Homo sapiens: one gene and its partners. The protein of the gene in region 1 purifies or fractionates together with the protein of each later gene. This does not show direct contact. Each region holds a gene or a part of one and is shown on either strand. Other genes may lie near its edges.

What was found. Proteins that work in one complex are often made in the same cells at the same time.
Region 2: the proteins of TRIM47 (region 1) and FBP1 purify together in Homo sapiens (affinity purification with western blotting; 3 studies listed by BioGRID). This does not show direct contact.
Region 3: the proteins of TRIM47 (region 1) and SATB1 purify together in Homo sapiens (affinity purification with mass spectrometry; 4 studies listed by BioGRID and IntAct, with this or other methods). This does not show direct contact.

The regions. Positions count from the first base shown.
Region 1 is NC_000017.11:75,875,564-75,882,694, forward strand, and holds the start of TRIM47 (E3 ubiquitin-protein ligase TRIM47), read right to left. Parts: upstream 3,019-7,131; 5' UTR 2,986-3,018; coding exon 2,311-2,985; exon of another isoform or gene 2,288-2,310; intron 2,262-2,287; exon of another isoform or gene 2,158-2,261; intron 1,251-2,157; coding exon 1,155-1,250; intron 930-1,154; coding exon 699-929; intron 537-698; coding exon 338-536; intron 1-337. UniProt on the Homo sapiens protein: E3 ubiquitin-protein ligase that mediates the ubiquitination and proteasomal degradation of CYLD.
Region 2 is NC_000009.12:94,608,510-94,615,535, forward strand, and holds part of FBP1 (fructose-1,6-bisphosphatase 1), read right to left. Parts: intron 1,553-7,026; coding exon 1,412-1,552; intron 1-1,411. UniProt on the Homo sapiens protein: Catalyzes the hydrolysis of fructose 1,6-bisphosphate to fructose 6-phosphate in the presence of divalent cations, acting as a rate-limiting enzyme in gluconeogenesis. Plays a role in regulating glucose sensing and insulin secretion of pancreatic beta-cells.
Region 3 is NC_000003.12:18,415,331-18,422,356, forward strand, and holds part of SATB1 (DNA-binding protein SATB1), read right to left. Parts: intron 5,662-7,026; 5' UTR 5,638-5,661; coding exon 5,427-5,637; intron 1,749-5,426; coding exon 1,572-1,748; intron 804-1,571; coding exon 677-803; intron 1-676. UniProt on the Homo sapiens protein: Crucial silencing factor contributing to the initiation of X inactivation mediated by Xist RNA that occurs during embryogenesis and in lymphoma.

The DNA.
Region 1 (7,131 bases):
AGAGTCCAGAGCCACCAGGGAGCAAGCACCACCCAGATGTGGCACGCTGTGCTCACACACATGCCCGTTGCCTGTGTTCTGCCTCTTGCCCCATGTGCTTCCCGGGCCACAGCCCTCTGGAGCTAGAGGGTGGGCTAGGAGAAGCCCCCTCTACCCCAGGTCCAAGGGGCTGATTGATCCCCACAGGGTGGCAGCTCTAGTCACTGGCAGGATTTGGGCTCCTCCCTGTGCCAGGCACAATTTTCCTCCTCCACTTCTGGATGGGCGCCAGGCCTGGGGGCCTGTGCGAGAGGCTGGCAGAGGGTGAGTCATCGGGGGGGCGTGGGGCGGTGCCCACCTTCCGAGTCCAGCTTCTGTGGCCCATCCTCGTTGCCACCCGGCCCCCTCAGCTGCTCCCACTGGTTGACGCAGGCCACGGCCAGCATGTCTCTCACTGCACGGACAGCTTGGGATGATTTGGTGAAGCTGAGCTCCCTCGGGGGTCCAGGCCCAGGGCCACACCCATCCTCCAGGGCCAGCCTTAGTGCCAGCAGCTCCTGTGCCAGACAAATGCCCATTAAAGTGCTGCTGGCCATGGCTCCTCCTTGCTGGGGGTGGAGGCAGCTCTGCCAGGAAGTCATGCACCCACTGCCTCCTCCTCCCTCCACCCCACCTGTCCCAGCTTCTGTTCCTTCCGTGGCCCCCAGAGCGGCCTTCACCTGCAGGAAGCTGACTGAGTCAGCTTCAGGGACCTGGCTGAGATTCTGGCGGGCTCGGCTCAGGCGGCTGCGCTGTTCCTCCTGTCGCCGCAGGTCACCCTGGGAGCGGCCTAGCATGGCAGCTTCCCCCTCCTCGATGAAGCCCAGCACCTGGGTCTGGAAGCCCTGCAGGGCGGCCGCAGCATCTGCAAACAGCCGGCTCACCCTCTCCCGCTCTGCTACGGCTGCACTCTGCACAGGACGACAGTAGAGGGGGCAATGAGGGCAAAGAACCGTCCCGGACTGTACCCCCCTCCTTCCCTGACCCCGGCTTCCCACCGGCCCTCTTGAGGGGACAGAGGGGCCAGACTGAGCCTGTCCTGGATCTGGGCCAGGTCAGGGGACACTTGTGCTCAGTAGGTATGGGCATGGTTTGTTTGGAGTGGATTGTTCCATGCTGAGGGAGGGGTGTTTGACCTTGATGAGGGCCACTGTGCGCCTGGACTGTGCAATGCCAGCACCCAGCTCGTCCATGCGGTCCTCCACGGCGCTCAGGACTTTGGACTGCTCAGCCTGTGGACAACACCCTCCATGAGTGTGAGGTCTGGCAGAGGCCACAGCCCTACACTCGGGTCCCAGGCCTTGCCAGGGGAGAGAAGGGGGTGACTGGGGAGTGGTATCTGTGCATCAGGTGGGACTGGAGTGGCCACGATGTCCCATAATATGCCAGAGGTGCCTGCAGCCCAGGCTGGTGCCTTTCCTGAACGCCTGGGGGGCGTGCAGGCTGACTGGGTGTCTGCCTCGGGTCTCTGACAGGAGGCCTAGTACAGGGCCGTCCGCTGGTCTCAGTGTTGCTCAGATGAATTTGAGAACTTCCTCCGGCGGGGAAGAGGCAGAGAGTAAGCCAGTTAGGTTGGGAGGTGGGCGGCGGAGGGGTGACTGCACAAGGAGGCATTAAGCTGTCCTGAGGATCACTGTTCCCAAAGAGCCTGCATCCACAGTCCAGGCCTGGAAAAAAGGGGATTCCGGGCAAATCCCCTAGGTCTTATGAGTCACTGCTCCAGGCAGGAGAAACGGAAAATCCCTTGGCCAGAGGCGCCAAGACCGGGCTGGAGGCCAAAGGAAACTGGGGGCGGGAGGTAGAGGCCGCGGCTCACATGCTCCCACCACTGGCCCCCGGAACAGCTGGACAGAGAATCTGTGTGCCCGGTCGCCCTCTGCCGCCCTCCTGCCGCCTGCCACACCCATCGAAAGCTGCTGCCTCAGCCCAGGGCAAATCTGAGCTGAGACCGGCGTGACCCTCCGGGCGGGAGCAGCAGCCACGCTACCGGAACCCCGCGGGCCTAACCCGGCTCCCTCCCGCCTACACCCCCATAGACCCCGGCCCGGCTTCAGGTCCCCTGCCCGCTCTTCGCGTCCTTGTCCTGTTCTCACGTCCCTCCTTCCTCCCTTCCCATCTCCATCACCGCCAGCAGATGACCTTGTCAAGGCTGGAAGGGACCGCAAAGATCCTCAGGTTAGAGGAGGAGATTAAGACCCAACCCGGGAAGACTGGGGGGTCCAAGGTCCTCGGCCCGCTCGCGCGCGGTCGGTCACCAGCCCCGGCTCACCCGAGTGTGCCCCCGGAGCCCACCTCCTGAAGCGCGCGCTCCTGCTCCAGCGGCACCAGCTCGTGGCCGCGGTGCTCCTGTGCGGCGCAGGCCTCGCACAGACACACGCGCTCCGCGCGGCAGTAGCGCTCGAGCGGCCGTAGGTGGCGCGGGCACAGGCTCTCCTCTAGCCGGCGCAGCGGCGGCACCAGGCGGTGTCCGCGGAGGGCGGGGCTGCGCTCGTGCGGGCCCAGGTGCGCGGGGCAAAAGGAGGCGAGGCAGGAGAGGCAGGACAGCGCGGCGGGCAGGGCCGCGCCCTCGGGGCACGCGTCGCAGCGCACTGGCTCTTCGCCCGCGGGCCACGGCTCGGGAGCGCAGGGGGCCGACGGCTCCGGGACACTGGGCAGCGCGCTGGGTGCCGAGGGCTCCGGGGCCAGGGCAGGGGCCGGGCCGGGGCCGGACCCGGGGCCCGAGCCCTGGCGGAGCTGCAGCAGCTCGGACAGCGTGTGGTTCTTGCGGAGCTGAAGGCCGTCGGGGAAGGGCTCCTGGCACAGCGGGCAGCGGGCCGCGCCTCCGGGTCCGCCGGCTCCACTCGCGCCACGATGCGGCCAGAGCGCGCCCAGGCAGGCGAGACAGAAGTTGTGGCCGCAGGGCAGCGTCACCGGCTCCCGGAGTGGCTCTAGGCAGATGGGGCAGCTGAAGGGTCCACTGCCGTCCATGACTCCGCGGCCGCCCAGGGCGCCGCCGATTGTGCTCCGGCCTGGGAGGGACCCGGGCCGTTCGCGCCGCGGCACCTCCCCCTGGGACCTAGGCCAGGGCTCCGGCCCCCGCCCGCCCCCAGCTCGGCCCGCCCCGCAGCACCGCCCGCCTGCGGGCCCGCGGACTCCCAGTCCCCGCCCAGACAACGCAGGGAGGCCTCCGAGCCCGCGCGACCCCCAGGGGAGTCCGCGTGGTCCTAAGGAAGGGCGCTGCTGAAAGGGTGTGAAACTGAGTGAGCGCGGGCGGAGAACGCGAGAGGTACAGTGGAAGGAATGGGAAGGACTCAGCCTCCATCCCTCTGGTCCTTCTGGGCCAGGCCAGCGCTCCGCAGGGGCTGGGCGCGTCTAGCTGTGTCATGCCTGCACCTTTGCGCTCGACCCCTCCCTGGCACCCTTAGCAAAGTTCCTGAGCTGCTGACTGCAGAGAAAAATAACTGCTGATGTACATATGTTTTTGCCCCTTAGCGACTCTTTTTTTTTTTTTTTTTGAGACAGAGTTCCTCTCTTGTCGCCCAGGCTGGAGTGCAGGGGCGCTATCTCGGCTCACTGCAACCTCCGCCTCCCGGATTCAAGTGATTCTCCTGCCTTAGCCTCCCAAGTAGCTGGAATTATAGGCGCTTGCCACCACACCAGGCAAATTTTTGTATTTTTTTGTAGAGACGGAGTTTCACCTTGTCCAGGCTGGTCTTGAACTCGTGACCTCAGGTGATCCACCTGCCTCGGCCTCCCAAAGTGCTGGGATTACAGGCGTGAGCCACAGCGCCCAGCTCCTTTAGCGACTCTTTACCCCAAGTAGGGAACTTGGACTTTTCTAGACCTGAAATGGGAAGTTGACGTCATTCCCTAAGTCCCTTGTCTGAGGAATGTAGTTCTGGCCCCTGGACACTGGGGACACCTGTGGTGGGGTTGGGGGTTCCCCAACTGGAAGTATTTAAAGCTCATCTAATTATGCACTTAAAGTGGTGCGTTTTATTGTATGAGTTATATCTCAATAATGTTAAGTTAAAACACTACACCAGAATGACAACAAAATAAGTAAAGTAGCACTGATTATAACCCAAAGTGTAAAATAAACATCTATGAGTCCATGCCGATATAAATAAATAATAAATTAACAAGCTGGGGAGAACAGACATATTTCGCATTGAAAATTCCAAATAATGTTTTTTTATTTTTATTTTTTTAGATGGAGTTTCGCTCTTGTCGCCCAGGCTGGAGTGCAGTGGCGCAATCTCAGCTCACTGCAACCTCTGTCTCCTGGGTTCAAGCGATTCTCCCTCCTCGGACTCTTGAGTAGCTGGGATTACAGGCGCCCGCCACCACATTTGGCTAATTTTTGTATTTTTAGTAGAGACGGGGTTTCACCATGTTGGCCAAGCTGGTCTCGAACTGCTGACTTCAGGTGATCCACCCGCCTCGGCCTCCCAAAGTGCTGGGATTACAGACATGAGCCACCGCACCCAGAGATATCTGTAATTTTGGTTAGTGACAAAGTCACAGGTAACTGCTCATACCACTCTGGTGTATTCTCTCCATTTGGAATAGAAAGAAATGCTGTGTTTCAGTAAGGTGCTGCAGCGTGGCTTCCTTCTGCAGGATCTGAGGGAGACTCTGTCCTGGGCGTCTGTCCCAGCTTCTGGTACTGGCTGGCAATTCTTGGCGTTCCTTGGCTTGTAGCTGTAAGATGCGCTCTAATATCAGTCTCTGTTGTCATTTGCCTTTTCTCTGTGTCTGTGTTCAAATGTCCTTTTTTTTTTTTTTTTTAGGGAGTCTTGCTCTGTTGCCCACTCAAACTGCTGGGCTCGAGTAATCTGCCTGCCTCAGCCTCCCAAAGTGCTAGGATTACAGGCGTGAGCCACTGTGCCCGGTGCCCATTTCCTCTTATCAGGACACCAGTTGTTGGATTAGGGCACGCTCTACTCCAGTATGCCCTCATCTTAACTCAGTCACATCTGAAAATACTCTATTTCCAAATAAGGTCACAGCCACAGGTCCTGGGGGTTAGGATCCGAATACGTCTTTTTCAGGGAACAGGATTCAACCTATAACAGTGCATAAGTAAGGAAATGTTGGAGAGAGGCCCAGGCCCAAATGTGCTAGAGGTCATGCATGTCCCCCGGTGTTCCTGGCCCTCTCTGTGTTCCAGGACCCTGGCCCTTCCCTAAACCTCAGCACACACTGCTGCTTGTCCCACACCCAAACCCTTGTCCACCTCTCCCACCGGGTCTGCATTCCTGCCTCTGTTTCCCCAGCTCTCTAGGCTTGGGGGGTGGGAAAATACCCTCAGGTCCCCTGAGACCAGACTAGAAATGTTCAGAAGGCACTTCATGAGTTCAGAGCTAAAGAGGAGAAAACACAAGCAAAAGAGCACAAATGTGCCGGGTGTGGTGGCTCACGCCTGGAATCCCAGGACTTTGGGAGGCTGAGGCGGGCGGATCACTTGAGGTCACGAGTTCCAGACCAGCCTGGTTAACATGGCGAAACCCCATCTCTACTAAAAATACAAAAAAATTAGCCGGGCGTGGTGGTGCACACACTTGTATTCCCAGCTACTCGGGAGTCTGAGGCAGGAGAATCGCTTGAACCAAGGAGGCAGAGGTTGTGCCACTGTACTCTCCAGCCTCGGTGACACAGCGAGACTCCATCTCAAAAAAAAAAAAAAAAAAAAAAGAAAAGAAAAGAAGAAAGAAAGAAGGAGGGACCCAGCCTCTTGGGGAGGGAGCTGGCTCTCCAGGCACTCAGGAACCCCTGTCTTAGTGTGTCTGGGCTGCTATCCCAGAACACCAGAGACTGGGTGGCTTATACACAACAGACACTCCTCACAGTTCTGGAGGCTGGAAGTCTGCGATCACGGTGACAGCACAGTCAGGGTTCCAGTGAGAGCTGCTTCCTGGGTTGTAGATGGCTGCCTTCCCACTGTGTCCTCACATGGCCAAGAGACAGCCAGAGAGCCTTTGGGGCCCCTTGGACAAGGGCACTCATGCCATGAATGAGGCTCCGCCCACCTGAAGACCCCACCTCCTAGGACCATCACCTTAGGGGTCAGGATCTCAACACATCAATTCTGAGGGTACACACACATTCAGACTGTTGCAACTCCAAGTGCCAAAAGAGCGGTGCAATCTGCTCCTGGGGGCTCCATGGGAAAGGCTGGGGAACTGTGGAAGTGGCATTTGAGCTGGGCTTTCACAGACTGCCAGGACTCAGGCGGGCAGAGACTGGGGTGGGAAAAGACCTTCCGGGCAGAGGGAGTAGCAGAGGGAGCCGGCCTGGGTGTGTCTGATTTGGCAGGAGGGTGGGTAATGAGTTCCATACATTGGTTTCCACCAAGAGCACTAGAGCACTTGATCAGGACTATCACTTGTTTGCCAAGCCCCAGGAGCGGTTGGGAGGCCCAGGCATCAGTGCCACCCTGCTCCGTGGCTTTGGTGCCCAGGCTGCCTGGGTTTGGTGAGGCCACAAACCTGCCTGGTTCTGGAAGGAGGGGGTGCCTTTCCGGTTGGGTCCCAGCCAACCCTCTGCTCCCCACCCACAGCCTGCTGTCCTCCCTGCTTGAAAAGATCTGCTCCCCAGGAGGAAAGCACAGAGATGCGGTTTGTCAGTGTGGTGGCATCTTGCTACTTCTTTTCTTTTTTTTTCAAATGGAGTCTCGCTCTGTCGCCCAGGCTGGAGTTCAGTGGCGCAATCTCATCTCACTGCAACCTCCACCTTCTGGGTTCAAGCGATTCTCCTGCTTCAGCCTCCCCAGTAGCTGGGATTACAGGCATGCATCACCACGCTCGGCTAAATTTTGTATTTTTTAGTGGCGATGGGGTTTCACCATGTTGGCCAGGCTGGTCTCAAACCCCTGACCTCAGGTGATCTGCCTGCCTCGGCCTCCCAAAGTGCTGGGATTACAGACGTGAGCCACCGCGCCCAGCCTGGCATCTTGCTATTTCATTTCCATTTCCAGAGTTTTGAAGTTGTTTGCCTAGTGTATTAGTTCACTTCAAAATGAATTGTCTAAGAGTCAAGGGCAAGGGTAACTGGCACCATGTGAGCTCAGCATGTTCACACCTGCCCTCATTCTGTCTGTCCAAGGACCCTATCCTAAAGGATGGCAACTGG
Region 2 (7,026 bases), on another chromosome or scaffold:
CAGGGCCCGGCAAATCACAGTCAGCAAACATCAGTGGTGCCCGAAATTCCATCCTGGGCTCAGGTGGAACTTTGCTCTGGTTCTGCCACTAACTCCCCCACCCCACCCCTACCCAGGTCACCACATTTGGCGACTTTAACTAGTGCTATTACCCTACCCTTGTTTATTTGTTAAGTGCCCATGCTTCCAAGGAGGTGAAAGTCCACTTCCCTGACAGCCTGGGACAAAGGCAGCCTGTGTTGAGTTAGCCTTCCTGCCACACACAGACCCGGCCTCACCTCCAGCAGCCTATCTCGCACAGAAGGTTCCTGTTCCTTGTCTGTTCCTGGGGTTCAGTTTGCCAGCAAAAAGCACTTTACACATAGTTCACTAATGTCATAGGAGGACATCTCTAAAAGTTAAAAAAGTTGGCCAGGCATGGTGGCTCATGCCTGTAATCCCAGCACTTTGGGAGGCTGAGGCGGGCAGATCACCTGAGGTTAGGAGTTCGCGACCAGCCTGACCAACATGGCGAAACCCCGTCTCTACTAAAAATACAAGTGTGGTGGCAGGCGCCTGTAGTCCCAGCTACTCAGGAGCTGAGGCAGGAGAATCGCTCGAACCCAGGAGGCAGAACTTGCAGTGAGCCGAGATCACGCCACTGCACTCCAGCCTGGGAGACAGGGCAAGACTACATCTCAGAAAAAAAAAAAAAAAAGAAAGAAAGACTGCACCAGTTAACTGAAGGTTTGTGTAAATGTACACGAATAAATGTGGGAGCTATTTTTGAAGAAGCAATGTCGTCCACTGCTTCAGTTGGCACACCCATTCGTCTCAGGAAAACAGCCTTTTGGTGACTAAAGTAGAAAAGCTAGAAATGGATGGATACAGTTTATGGCAAACAGAATATCTACAGCCCCATCAGGTCCATAAATGCATTTTAGTTGGCCAACATAGTGTTGCACACATGCAGAAACATTATGTTTTTTACAATCCAGTGTTTCTTGAACCATTAATAGAAGCCTTGGCAAGGCGGGCCCCCTCCTCCCAATTGTAATTGCTGGAACTCTTCAGTTCACCCCAGTTCCACCCTTGCCCCCCGGCCTTCCTTCCCCAGCACACTTCATCATCCCTATGGCCTGCCTGGACCTGGCATTTGGGTCATTTGAGTAACAGCTGCTCTGAGGAATTCACATTGGAACAAAGACCCCCTCTTGTGCCAGTCTGAGATGGCATTTCTCACCTCCATAGTCTGCTCGGGAGGCATACACTCTCTCTTGGTCTCCTGCCCCCTTTCCACCACACATCATCATCTCTGTCCCTCCATGGGCATCACCTCCCACCTCCACATACCCCTGCCAATCCCCCACACATATCATTCATTTGCTCACAGACACCAGCCAAGCCCCCAGCCTCCTGTGAGGTCTCTCACCGGGTCCAGCATGAAGCAGTTGACCCCACAGTCCATGGCAAGGACCAGCATGGTGGCACTGCCATACAGTGCGTAGCCGGCTGCCACCAGGTTCCGGCCTGGTTGCAGAGCATCCTTCTCAGAAGGCTCATCAGTTGATTTCTAGAGCAAGAAAGAAATCAAAGAATGTTTTTGTTTTGTTTTGTGATTCTTTTTTACAGTTCAACCATTAACAGGAGGCATTCTCAAGGTGCTCTTCTAATGAAATAGGGCATCTTCCCAGAGGGGCCTTCCCCTACACATCAGCAATATCCTGATTAGATTATCACGGCAGCCTTCCCACCAGAACCCAGATTTCCTGCATCTGGATTCCTCTTTCCAATTAGGGCCCTCCTCCAATTTTTCTAATGTGATATTCCCTCATCTCTCCACTATCAGTTCCAAAAAAGAGCATGCCTTCTTGCCAGTTCCCACTAATTTAATCTTATTACGGGCATCCATCTCTGTCACCTGCCTACTCCATCTTTATTTAAATAAATTAACACTGGGCTGCAGGGCAGCCAGTCTGCGGAGGAAATCAGTTTTGTGAGCTCTTGCCGCTGCAGCCCATACTCTGCTGAGCATGTGGTCTATATCACTCACACGTCAGGGAAATTCTCAGAAACGTAGGAACTCAGAATATCTCCCCAGAGTCATTATGGGGTAGAGCAGATGCTGTCCAGTGTTTTAACCGTGATGCATGGGAAGAAGCACATTTTACATCACAAACCAGTGCCCCCACACACACACCAAAAAGTTACCAAAATAATACCTACACTTAGAACGTGGCATGTGCCGTAATCCATTTTTTCATTAAAAACACAGCCCACTGGGTCATGTGGTCCAGAGTTTTTCTAACACTAGGGAAGGGAGCCCCTTAAGGAGACAGCTCCTAACCACTGATTTCTTACTATTAATGATTTTCTTCTTTTTTTTTTTTTTTGACACGGAGTCTCGCTCTGTCGCCCAGGCTGGAGTGCAGTGGTGCTATCTCGGCTCACTGCAAGCTCCGCCTCGCGGGTTCACACCATTCTCCTGCCTCAGCCTCCCAAGTAGCTGGGAGTACAGGCGCCTGCCACCACACCCAGTTAATTTTTTGTATTTTTAGTAGAGAGGGGGTTTCACCGTGTTAGCCAGGATGGTCTCTATTTCCTGACCTCGTGATCCACCTGCCTCGGCCTCCCAAAGTGCTGGGATTACAGGCGTGAGCCACTGCGCCCAGCCTGATCTTCTTTATTAACACTGGATTGACCTCTTTGGTCATCAAGACAGCCCCAAACAAATCTTTCAGCTTAACTACTCTCTGCTTGAATTAAGCAGAAATAAAAATATGCAATTTCTCGAACTTCACTTATTCTTTTCCTAGATTCCTGCAGCTGAGCGTAAGCAGGGGCATCTGTATCACGCAGCTGGAGAAGGAAGTCATCCCAGCAAAACATTCCAGGTAATTTCTTCCCATAACTTTCAAAAGGGTGGCCCACAGAGCACCTGCATTAGAATCACCTGGGATATTTATTAAAAATGCACATTCACAGCCGGGGTCATGACTCATCCCTATAATCCCAGCACTTTGGGAGGCTAAGGTAGGAGGATCATTTGAGGCAAGGAGTTTGAGACCAGTTTGTGCAACACTGGGAGACCCCATCTCTACGAAAAAAAATTTTTTTTTAATTAGCCAGGCATGGTGGCATGTGCCTGTGGCTACTAAGGAGGCTGAGGCTGGAGGATCACTTGAACCTGGGAGGTCGAGGCTGCAGTGAGCCATTATCATTCCACTGCACATGCCTGGGTGACAGAATGAGAACCTGCCTCTTTAAGAAAAAGAAAAGAAATGCATATTCTGGGGCTACAGCCTAGACACACTGTCAGACTTTCCATGGCGGGGCCTGAGAATCTGCATTGCACTATGCAATGTGAAGGGGTGACCTTCACACTCAAGTGTAAGAACTTCACATTCAAGCATAACAACTACTCATATAAATGAGAAAACCACAAACCAGAAAACCACAAACCCATTTCTTTCCACCGCTTCCCTGCCCCTCCTAGTTTTCACCTGGGGAGGTGGTTAGTTAGCTGGTTGCACTGGGTTATTTGATTCAGTTTGGTTTGTATTCACCAGACAGTACAGTGGAGCTAAACACAGACTAAACTTACAGGATCAAAACTTTGAGGGAATAATTCCAAGTTTTGCCAATGCACAACCTTGAAAAATGAAATTAATGGCCTTTGTCAACATGCGCTGCCTGTCAGAGGCTCATTTTAACAATCACCAGCTTCCCTTGAAGCCAGGTACACAGTGGGTGGACTCAGGACTCTAACTCTCCTCTCCTCCCACTGCAGGCTTCAAGTAACCAGTTCTCTGCCAATAAAGGCCCCTTTTCCCAGAGATTCACCTCGCCCAGAACCATCCGTGCCGGCCTGTGGCAAAGGTGCAAAAGTAAACAGCCCTTCCCTGACATACGGTCACCAAATGCTCTACATTTATACACTTCCTCGCACGGAATAAAAAATAATAGTAATACTTGTCTATGACCCACATACTCAAAACGAAGAGAAAATTATCCCACTGAGCCATGGATTTGGAGGAATTCTTTTCTAGCCCAGCCCCCAATTTTTTTTTTTTTTTTTTTTTTTTTGGAGACAGAGTCTTGCTCTATCGCCAGGCTGGAGTGCAGTGGCACAATCTTGGCTCACTACAACCTCCACCTCTTGGGTTCAAGTGATTCTCCTGCCTCAGCCTCCCAAGTAGCTGGGATTACAGGCGCCCACCACCACGCCTGGCTAATTTTTTTTTTTATTTTTAGTAGAGATGGGGTTTCACCATGTTGGCCAAGATGGTCTCGAACTCTGGACCTCAGGTGATCCGCCTGCCTCAGCCTCCCAAAGAGCTGGGATCAGCCCCCTTTCTAATTCCTTCCTCCAAATGCTCAGCAATGCATGCCTTTCCTCCAAGGGAAACATATTCCATTCTCCTGCAGATGCCCAGGGACCAATGAGCACGGAGCACTTGGCAAAATCAGAAACCTCTGGACCCTTCCTTTCTCTGCCTATCTGAGGCCACCACCTGCTGTAGGCACTGGCTCCATGTCATCACATATTATTCCATGTCATCACATAAGGAGAAGTAGGCACAGAAACGGAGGGCCTGGGGGAGGAGAGACTGTCACGTCCACAGTGGTCTTTCCTCGGAGCAGAAACCAAACCCTACTTTTCTGAATCTCTGCTTTTGTGGTGGGAGCTGTAAAGGACATTGCAAGTTAGAGTATGTCCAGTAGAGGGTGATCAGGCTAGAGAGAAGTCTCAGATCCCTCTCCTGTGAAAGATGTTCAGCTTAAAGGGAAAAAAAGTGGGTGTGGTGGGCATTATTGGGAGGGCAGAAACACTGTTTCCAAACATGTCAAAGAATCTTATTTTCTTATGCTCTAAACAGCCAAGTGAGCAAAATGAAACAGATTTCAACTCAATATTTGGACAAACCATGATGGTTACCCAGCATTGCAGGAGAATTCGCCCTGTCAGGATGTCTCCAGCCAGACACTGGTGGGGCCAGGCACCGTGGCTCATGCCCGTAATCCCAACACTTTGGGAGGTCGAGGCGGGAGGATCGCCTCAGCCCAGGAGTTCAACACCAGCCTGGGAAACATAGCGAGACCCCCTTGTCTCTACAGACAATACAAAAATTAGCCAGGTGTGGTGGTGCACCTGTAGTCCCAGCCACTCAGGAGGCTGAGGTAGGAGGATGGCTTAAACCCGGGAGGGTGAGGCTGCAGTGAGCCATGATGGCGCCACTGCTCTCAGCCTGGGCGACAGAGTGAGACCTTGTCTCAAAAAAAAGAAAAAAAAGAAGAAAAAAAAAAGGCCGGACGCAGTGGCTCACGCCTGTAATCCTAGCACTTTGGGAGGCCGAGGCGGGCGGATCACGAGGTCAGGAGATTGCCACCATCCTGGCTAACACACGGTGAAACCCCGTCTCTACTAAAAATACAAAAAAAATTAGCCAAGCGTGGTGGCGGGCGCCTGTAGTCCCAGCTACTCGGGAGGCTGAGGCAGGAGAATGGCGTGAACCCGGGAGGCAGGGCTTGCAGTGAGCCGAGATCGTGCTACTGCACTCCAGCCTGGGCGACACAGGAGACTCCATCTCAAAAAAAGAAAAAAAGAAAGAAAAAGGAAGAAGGAAGAAAAGGAAGAAGAAGAGGAGGGAGAAGGAGGAGGGGAAGAAGGCAGAGGAGGAAGGGGGGGACGAGGAGGAGCAGGGGGAGGAGGAGGGAGGGAGAAGGGGGAGGGACAGGGAGAAGAAAGAGAAAGAATAGTAGTAGTCGTGGCCGGGCGCGGTGGCTCACGCCTGTAATTCCAGCACTTTGGGAGGCCGAGGTGGGCGGATCACGAGGTCAGGAGATCGAGACCATCCTGGCTAAAACAATGAAACCCCGTCTCTACTAAAAATACAAAAAATTAGCCAAGCGTGGTGGTGGGCGCCTGTAGTCCCAGCTACTCAGGAGGCTGAGGCAGGAAAATCGCTTGAACCAGGGAGGCAGAGGTCGCAGGGAGCTGAGATGGCGCCACTGCACTCCAGCCTGGGCGACAGAGAGAGACTCTGTCTCAAAAAAGAAATAGTAGTAGTCGGTAGGCCCTGGAAAGATGCTGTGGCAGGAGCTGCATGCAACATGACCACACATCCTTCCACGTGCCTTTCCAGGAATCGTGTAGCAAGGCCTGGTCACCATGGCAGGGTCACAGTTACTGATGCTGCCCCACTGGGCGTGGGCACCATGGTGCGATTCTAGCCAACAATCATCTCTGCAGAAAGCAGGAAAAATCCCCTTGGAAGCATTATAGATGTCTATGTTTATGCCTCATGAGCCCTCAACTGGTTTCAGCTGTTTCAAGCAATCAATAAGGCTTCAAAAAACTGAAATGACTTAGAGGTCTGTGTCATACTCATCATCACTTTCTTTTTATTAATTAATTAATTTATTTATTTATTTTTTGAGACAGAGTCTTGCTCTGTCACCCAGGCTGGAGTGCAGTGGTGCGATCTCGGCTCACTGCAAGCTCCGCCTCCCAGGTTCACACCATTCTCCTGCCTCAGCCTCCCAGGTAGCTGGGACTACAGGGGCCTGCCACCACACCCGGCTGATTTTTTGTATTTTTGGTGGAGATGGGGTTTCACCGTGTTAGCCAGGATGGTCGCAATCTCCTGACCTCGTGATCCGCCCGCCTGGGCCTCCCAAAGTGCTGGGATTACCGGGGTGAGCCACCGCACCAGGCCCCACTTTCTGTCTTTTAAAAAAGTCACTTCTGGTTCATTGAGAAGACAGCCGAGCCTTATTGTTGAGAATTCTGTCATTCATAATTCAAGCTGCTGTTGCAAGCTGGCTTGATTTTTTTTTTTTAGTTGATAGCCAATGTCTCTCAATTTCCCAGGTTTTTTTTCCTTAAAAAGTATTATTTGGGGGGACTGAGATGGAGAATGGGCTTAGTAAACATCAACACTGCTTTAGTTGTGGTTAACACATTAGCCAGATGTCTTCCTCTGCAAGGAAGAATTTTGCTACAAACCTCTCCTGCTATTCTGTGGATTTGATATTTTGCAAGGA
Region 3 (7,026 bases), on another chromosome or scaffold:
ACAGATGCATCTGGAGATTGCTCTCGGTCTCCTGATTGTTCCGATTAGTTAATTACTTTATACAACACATCTGCTGTATCGATGCATGAATTATACATCAGCTGCCTGTGGTGGCTATTTTTTCATGTTACTTCTACCTTCCTGCTCTGATGCGCTTGGGAAGACAATTTAAGGTGTACTGCTTTCTCCTGAGCCATCATGAAAAGCTTTAATGTATTAACCGATTTCCTTTCATTACTCTGTTCATATGAATTAAAAATCATAAAAAAATAAATAAATAAATAAGACTGTGGTAATAGTGAATAAGACAGTCTTTCACAAAATGTACACAGATGGCACTGTTCATGATATGCAAAAATATTTTTTTCTTAAGTAAACTTTATGTAAAATGCCTTCTTGTGATGCATTATTTAATTGACTAAACGTAAAAAGTCTTGTCTTTTGATAACCTGCACAAACCTACACATTTTTTGTGTGTGTGGGGGGGGGGATTGCTTTTAAATTATACATTGAAGTTAGGAAAAAAGGCAGAAGGATAGGGTAACAAAATCGATCTGTATTAACCTTTCTGAAACACAGACTAAAAAAAAATTGAAGGTCGACCAGAGAGAAATGCTTCATTTCAAAAGACCAGGTAAGAAGAATGTTTCACCCTAGATTTGCTGTCTTGACTCACCTGTGTAACTGAATTTTCAATGTGACCACATGATACACATCTTGAAGCATATCTGCTACTGTAGCATCAGGGGCATCTGTCACGTAAGACAGTGGAACTGGATTCCACTTTCCAACCTGGATTAGCCCTATTTCAGATAAAGAGAATATGTCACTAAATATTTTACCCTCAGATAATATATCTACTAGAAGGGTGTTCTTTTCTTTTCTACTACCCCTACCACAAGCAGTACCGTTATTTCTGTTTGAATGATTCCCTTCCCTCTAAAAGGCAGGTCAATGAAAATATTCACAGCTTAGCTTTCCAAATTGTAAAATTATGTAAATGACTGTAGGGTTGTTTATTATTTTGGAAATAAAACCCCATCAATAAAACCTATGCATAAGGCCACATTTTCCTAACTTACAGGAAGTTCTAATAAGACATAGCCGAACCAGTTCTAAATGGCTTTATGATTTAGATAAGATTCTCTATTGCAGTGGGAATCAGCATTGAAAAATACTTTGCAGCCCATAAAACCATCAGAAACAGAATAAAAGAAACAGAACTAGATATTCAGTCATAAATGCAAATTGACTCTCAACAGTCCATCTGCTCAAATACGCTCCTCACTTCCTTGTGGGTCCTCAGTGGAGCAGATTATTAAGGTCAATAAGCATACTAATGATTCAGCTGAAGTAATTTAAAAAAAAAATCTACCTCGACATTCCACATGAGCAAAATGTGTGTTAACTAAACCAAACTGAATTAAGCCAATTTTTTAAAGCCACAGCCTATAAGGAACCAATGTAATACACAGGCTACAGTTCTTTGAATAAAAATATTCAGTGCTTTCTCTGCAAGGTAAACAAAGAATGCTAAGCAATTTTTCCAACCCCACGTACACATTATTTACCTTTGGCCTGGGCAGCAGAGCTATGTGAATAACCTAGAGACAGCAATGCCATTTCGATCAGCTGGTTGAAAAGCATATCCTTTCTCACCAGCACAAATTCTGCATGCTCCTCCTTGCAATCATATTCAATGGCGTTTTCATAATGTTCCACCACACAGAAAACTGGCAGCATGGTTCCTATCAAAAAGATGAAGAAGAAGAGATGGAAAACCAACAATCTTCAGAAATACAGCTTGGGGGTGGCGGGAGGAAATATTAGCCATGAAAATAAATAATCACAAGAGATTCACTGTGCTTCCAAGGCAGACTGGGTACAGTACAGGCAAATGCACACAAATATATACATTCTCATATTATTTAAAGTCGTAACAGAAATATTTAAGTAGAATATGAACTTGGTCCTAAGGTAAGCTGTGCTCTAAATTAACAGTGCATTTTCCAAAAGCAATGAATGCAGAATTACCTTTCTGATCAAATAATAATGGTGACGAAAGAGAAATAAATGTATCTTCTCTAATTTGCTATGAGTAGTATACAGTATGCAAACATAACTCACCATTTATCTTCAGAAGAACCCACCTTTCTACTGCTTACATGATTTTGTTAATAATAAACTTTTCCTGGGTTTGTGTCCAAACAAATTATCTTCGACCACGAAATTTTCATTTTCTTCCTTTTTTAGATATTAACTCTAACTGGTTCCACAAATCATTTTCTTCCTTTTTTAGATATTAGCTCTAACTGGTTCCACAAAAAGTACTTAACCAAACTGGTGCTCATAATACACAATTTCAATATCTGCATAATGTAGAAAAATAACATTTGCTTTTATGAATACTCATTTAACCTACCTAACTAAAAAGAGAGCACGGTACCCATAAGTCTTTAAAATCAACAATCTTTGTTACAGTAAATAAGGTAAAAATGAGAGATAGAAAAGGAAACTGACATACTAGGATAAAGGAATCTGCATAGATTTGGTGTGCTCTCTCTTTATATATTTTAATCCAATACAGTAACTCAGTAGCTAGATGATTAATAAGCACCGGCCACACTACTATTAGAAAGAGGCTTCTTCTAGAAATTGATATTACGGAATGCTGTGGTACTCAAGGTGTTTATGCAGCGCACTGTCAGACTTCCAATGATAACGGAAAAGGGTTAAAAGCAGATGCATCTGAATTGTACTGTGGCAAACTGCCAGAAGGGTATCATCTTTAGCATAAATGATGACAAGGGTTACTTTAACAGGGCACCCAGGATCCACAATTAGTCCTACAATACTAATGCCTCTATAAGCTCTGTCCTCTGGACTCACAGAATCCTACCAACTTCTGAAGATGACTTAGTGCACACCAACCGTAGCTAAAAATCAGGATTTCCTACTGACACCAGAGAGGCCCTTCAAAGATTCTCTATTTGCTTGTTTCTGCTGAACAAAAGCCGGCAATAAAACAGCTACATCTTTCTACATGTGAGTCTTCACCAAAGCTTTAGTGAACTGTTCACAAGAGATTCTAGGTCTGACAAAACCCTTTAGGTTTACTTAGAAAAACTCACAAACTCATTCGGAGGTACCAATAGGCTAGGCATGAAAAACAAGCCGCAGAGCTTGCCAATATTTTTGTCATTCATTCAGCTGTTTTATACCAGAGAAAGAACCCGTCGGGGATCAGAAGACAACTTGGGGAGACCACAGCAAAAATAGCAATATGCAAACTGGCGATTCCTTCCTTGGCTTGAAGGTATTCTGGCAAAATCGCCTAAACAAATAAAACCATTCAATCCCTTTTTCTTAGTAGTGTTTTCTCATCTCAGCCATAATTTTCATTTAGCACCTATCAGACAGAAACCATGCACATGAAAAATAAGATGAAAATGTTAATAAAAACCCACAAAAAGACTTTAGTAATTTTGTTATTTGGAGTATCTGAGACCCTCCTACAATTAAACTGCATTTTTAGAATACATCCAAAACAAAACAAAACAAAACCAAAAAGCATTTGAGCAGGAAGTGAATTTACTGTACTTTTAGTTTTCCTCCTCCTGTCCTGATATCTTCAAAGAGTTGGGTAAGTACAACAAAAATGTACACATTCATTTTTCCTTTTGTAGGATGAATCAGATGTATTCTACAATATGCTTTTCCTTAGATCTATGAAATAACTGCAGGGTTTTCAAACTATTGAAATATATTGGATTTATTGTGGATTTTATTGATCATGTTTAGAGGTACCCTAAAATAATAAAGACGGCTATAAAGTGACAATAGTACTATCTAATTACAGACCTTCTAGCAAACTGTTGCGGTTACCCTCCCGTTTCTGGGAGTAATGCTGAACACAAGCCTTTTCTGAACTGTATGATTATTCGTGCTAGTGTTTGGCGAGAGTTCCAACTACAGCAACTTCATAACCTTCCAGCATTTAAAGGGGAGAGCACTGGTCACTGCTGAATGCTAAAAATACCACATGATTTAAACCTGAAGGCAGTCTTAGAAGCTTTTGCTGAAGGTTTATGAGCCTGTGTAAACAGCACGTCTGCCATAAGGAGCAGTGAAGTCTGTAGAATCCTTGTCTAAAACTGTCCTGGCATTAAAGTTTGCTGTGCAAATATCACATAATACCAGAGACAGCTGAAATCTCCTATTTAGGAATTTATGGAACTTACATGTTTGCAGGCGTCAGAAAGTCTTTTTTATACAGCCCCAGTGCTTCACAGTACAATATTAATGCACTCTGTTTGAAAAGCCGTAATAAATTATATTTTTAATGCTCTTACCCTGGCTTTCTTAAGATGCATACATTCTTGGCAAACAATCAATAAATAGGGTAATCATGAGTAGAGGCCAAAGAATTTGCTGAAGTGCTGTTTTCCCATTTTTAATAGATAAAGATCTAACAATACGGACTGCTGTGTCTGTTCATTTCAGGATCAATATATTCTTTGTTTTCGCCAAACCAAGGAAAAAATAAATGATTGTATGATAAATGTTACGCATCAAACACAATGAAATTCCTCTGCCTTCTAACTTTATCTACTTAATATTCTTGGTTGCTAAAATATAGCATTTTTATCCATTGCTTAGCAAATGTAAGGAAAATCTGATTCCTATACATGTTATTCAGACACAAAATGAAGCTCCTTATGAGGCACATGCATTACACCCAGGGTAGGCACTGCTTTACAGGAACAACACTGTTAAACACAGTCCAAGTTGTTAAACTGCATCAATTTAATATTGGTAGAAAAAAGTCACACAGTTACACATCTTCCCCTTATAAACTTGCCTAAATCTGTTCTTTCTTCATCAAAAATACCCAATTAAAACAAAAATAAAAAACTAGAATCATCAGATTTTTTACTGCTAATGAATTTGCTCTTAAGAAAATAAGCCACAAAAAATAACATTACCAAACTTCTACATAAGATGTCCAAGATCTCTGAAACTGCCCTACAACTAAGAATCTTAGGAAGAAGCTAGGGTAACTCTCAAATCACCTAAGTGTTTTATTCTTAATCAGGTTAGTTTGAAGAAACAGCTGCCTACAATCCTCGACTACAACACCTTTTGAATGGACCCTGCCAAAACTAAAACCATTATATTTAATTCAGTCCTTATTACCCAAAATGTTCCATGATTCCAGTCTACAGTAGAACGCTCCACCCAAGCATGGAGGCTATACTTTCCAACGTGATTGATACTAAGGACCCAGAATGTAACTAATGTACGATCATAAGGAGAATAAAGGCAGAGTATACAAAACATGTTCTGCCACTCCACCCCCACACAGTGTGGCCTTGTGTAGACAACAGGGCTTTCAGCTTTTCAAGATTTGGCTTGAAGGTATTTACCTTTCCTAAGGTTGGTTTTCATCAGATGGCCCGAGTGTTTTAAAGGCACTCCCTGCATTTTTGCACCTGTACTCCCAAGCCTTCCTCTTCCTAGCGGGCTCCCGTTCTGCTCCAGGCGGGCAATCTTGGCTGGTGGACCCTTCGGATCACTCACATTGTTAGACATTTCTGAATGTTCTTTCCCCTGAGTTGCCTCGTTCAAATGATCCATACTCAGTCACTGTCTAAAGATCACCTGCCAGAATTTAAAAAGAAGACACGTTATAGTTGGGCGGGGACCTACGTGTATATATGTGTCCTATGTAAATGTTTTAGCTCTAGATATCTCTCCACAAATATAATGTATTTGTAAAATGGCCTATCTAGATATGATACAGATGTTACTATATTTCTAGATGATAGCATTACATTCTTATTCAAATTAACAAAATGATCTGTGGAAACTGTACCAATACACATGAATAAAAAGATAACTGGCCTATAAAAAAACTAAGTGGGGAAAAATGGGCTTACTTTTAGAACAAGAATTATTACAAGTATAGCTAAAAAGAAAACAGCAAATTGCATTTACGTAGTCCCAATTTTTAACAATTAGAAACACATTACAAAATACAGCAGAAACACTTTAATAAAGGATGGAAAGATGATCATAGTTCAAAATATTAGAAATCTAATGTATATGTTTTATATGTATACATTTTATATGTGTATGTATATTAATTCTTATGAAAAAAACATAAACCATCTCAAAAGAAGGTAACAAACATCTAACTGCTTTTTAAACTCCCCATTGGCTTTTGTAAATTAATGCATAGAAAAAGTTTTCTACTATCAAAGTTCCAAGAGTTATGTGACAGACCTAGTCAAGTTTTGGGCCAAAGATGTGATTGGATCAGTTTACCCCTAAAGAAACAGGAAGAAGTGAAGGGTTTTCAAATATCCAACGTACTGATGCATTAAAACTCATGTGTTTTAGAGTCAGTATTTAGGTGTCCATTAGTAATAGAGGGCTGTTAACAATAAATATTTTTAAAAAATTGAATACACTTCGTGATATGCACATTAGGTTGAAGTGCCAAGCTCAATTAAAAAAAAAAAAAACACAAACAAAAAACCTTGATGATACTGGTAAAACAAAATATCCAGTATTCAGAAATAACCTCAGCATGCAATGGCATTAACATTGTAATTAACTTCAAAAAAATTAACAGATAATTATTTTCAGTTATATATTAGACATCAATTTTCCCATCATTTATAGTAAAGTGATTAGACAATATCAAAGTCATTTTTAAAGTATAGTTTTAATTAGAATTGATAAGAACAGGTAAGTAGAATTATTTTATGAACTTTGATGGTATTTGAAGTATTGAGCTTATGAAACTAAGGGGATCATATTTAGGAAAACCAGAGAGAATAATTACCATTTTTCCTAGCTGTCTAGTAATTTGATATAGCTTGTTTTTGTTGTAAATTCTTACACTGGAGCTATTTAAATCTGGATTTGTTGAAAGCCAGTTTGTATTAGCATGGCTTTTCTGTAAATATTTTTTCTTCTGTTTAACCATAGCCTACTTCTTACCATATAATCAAGAAAAGG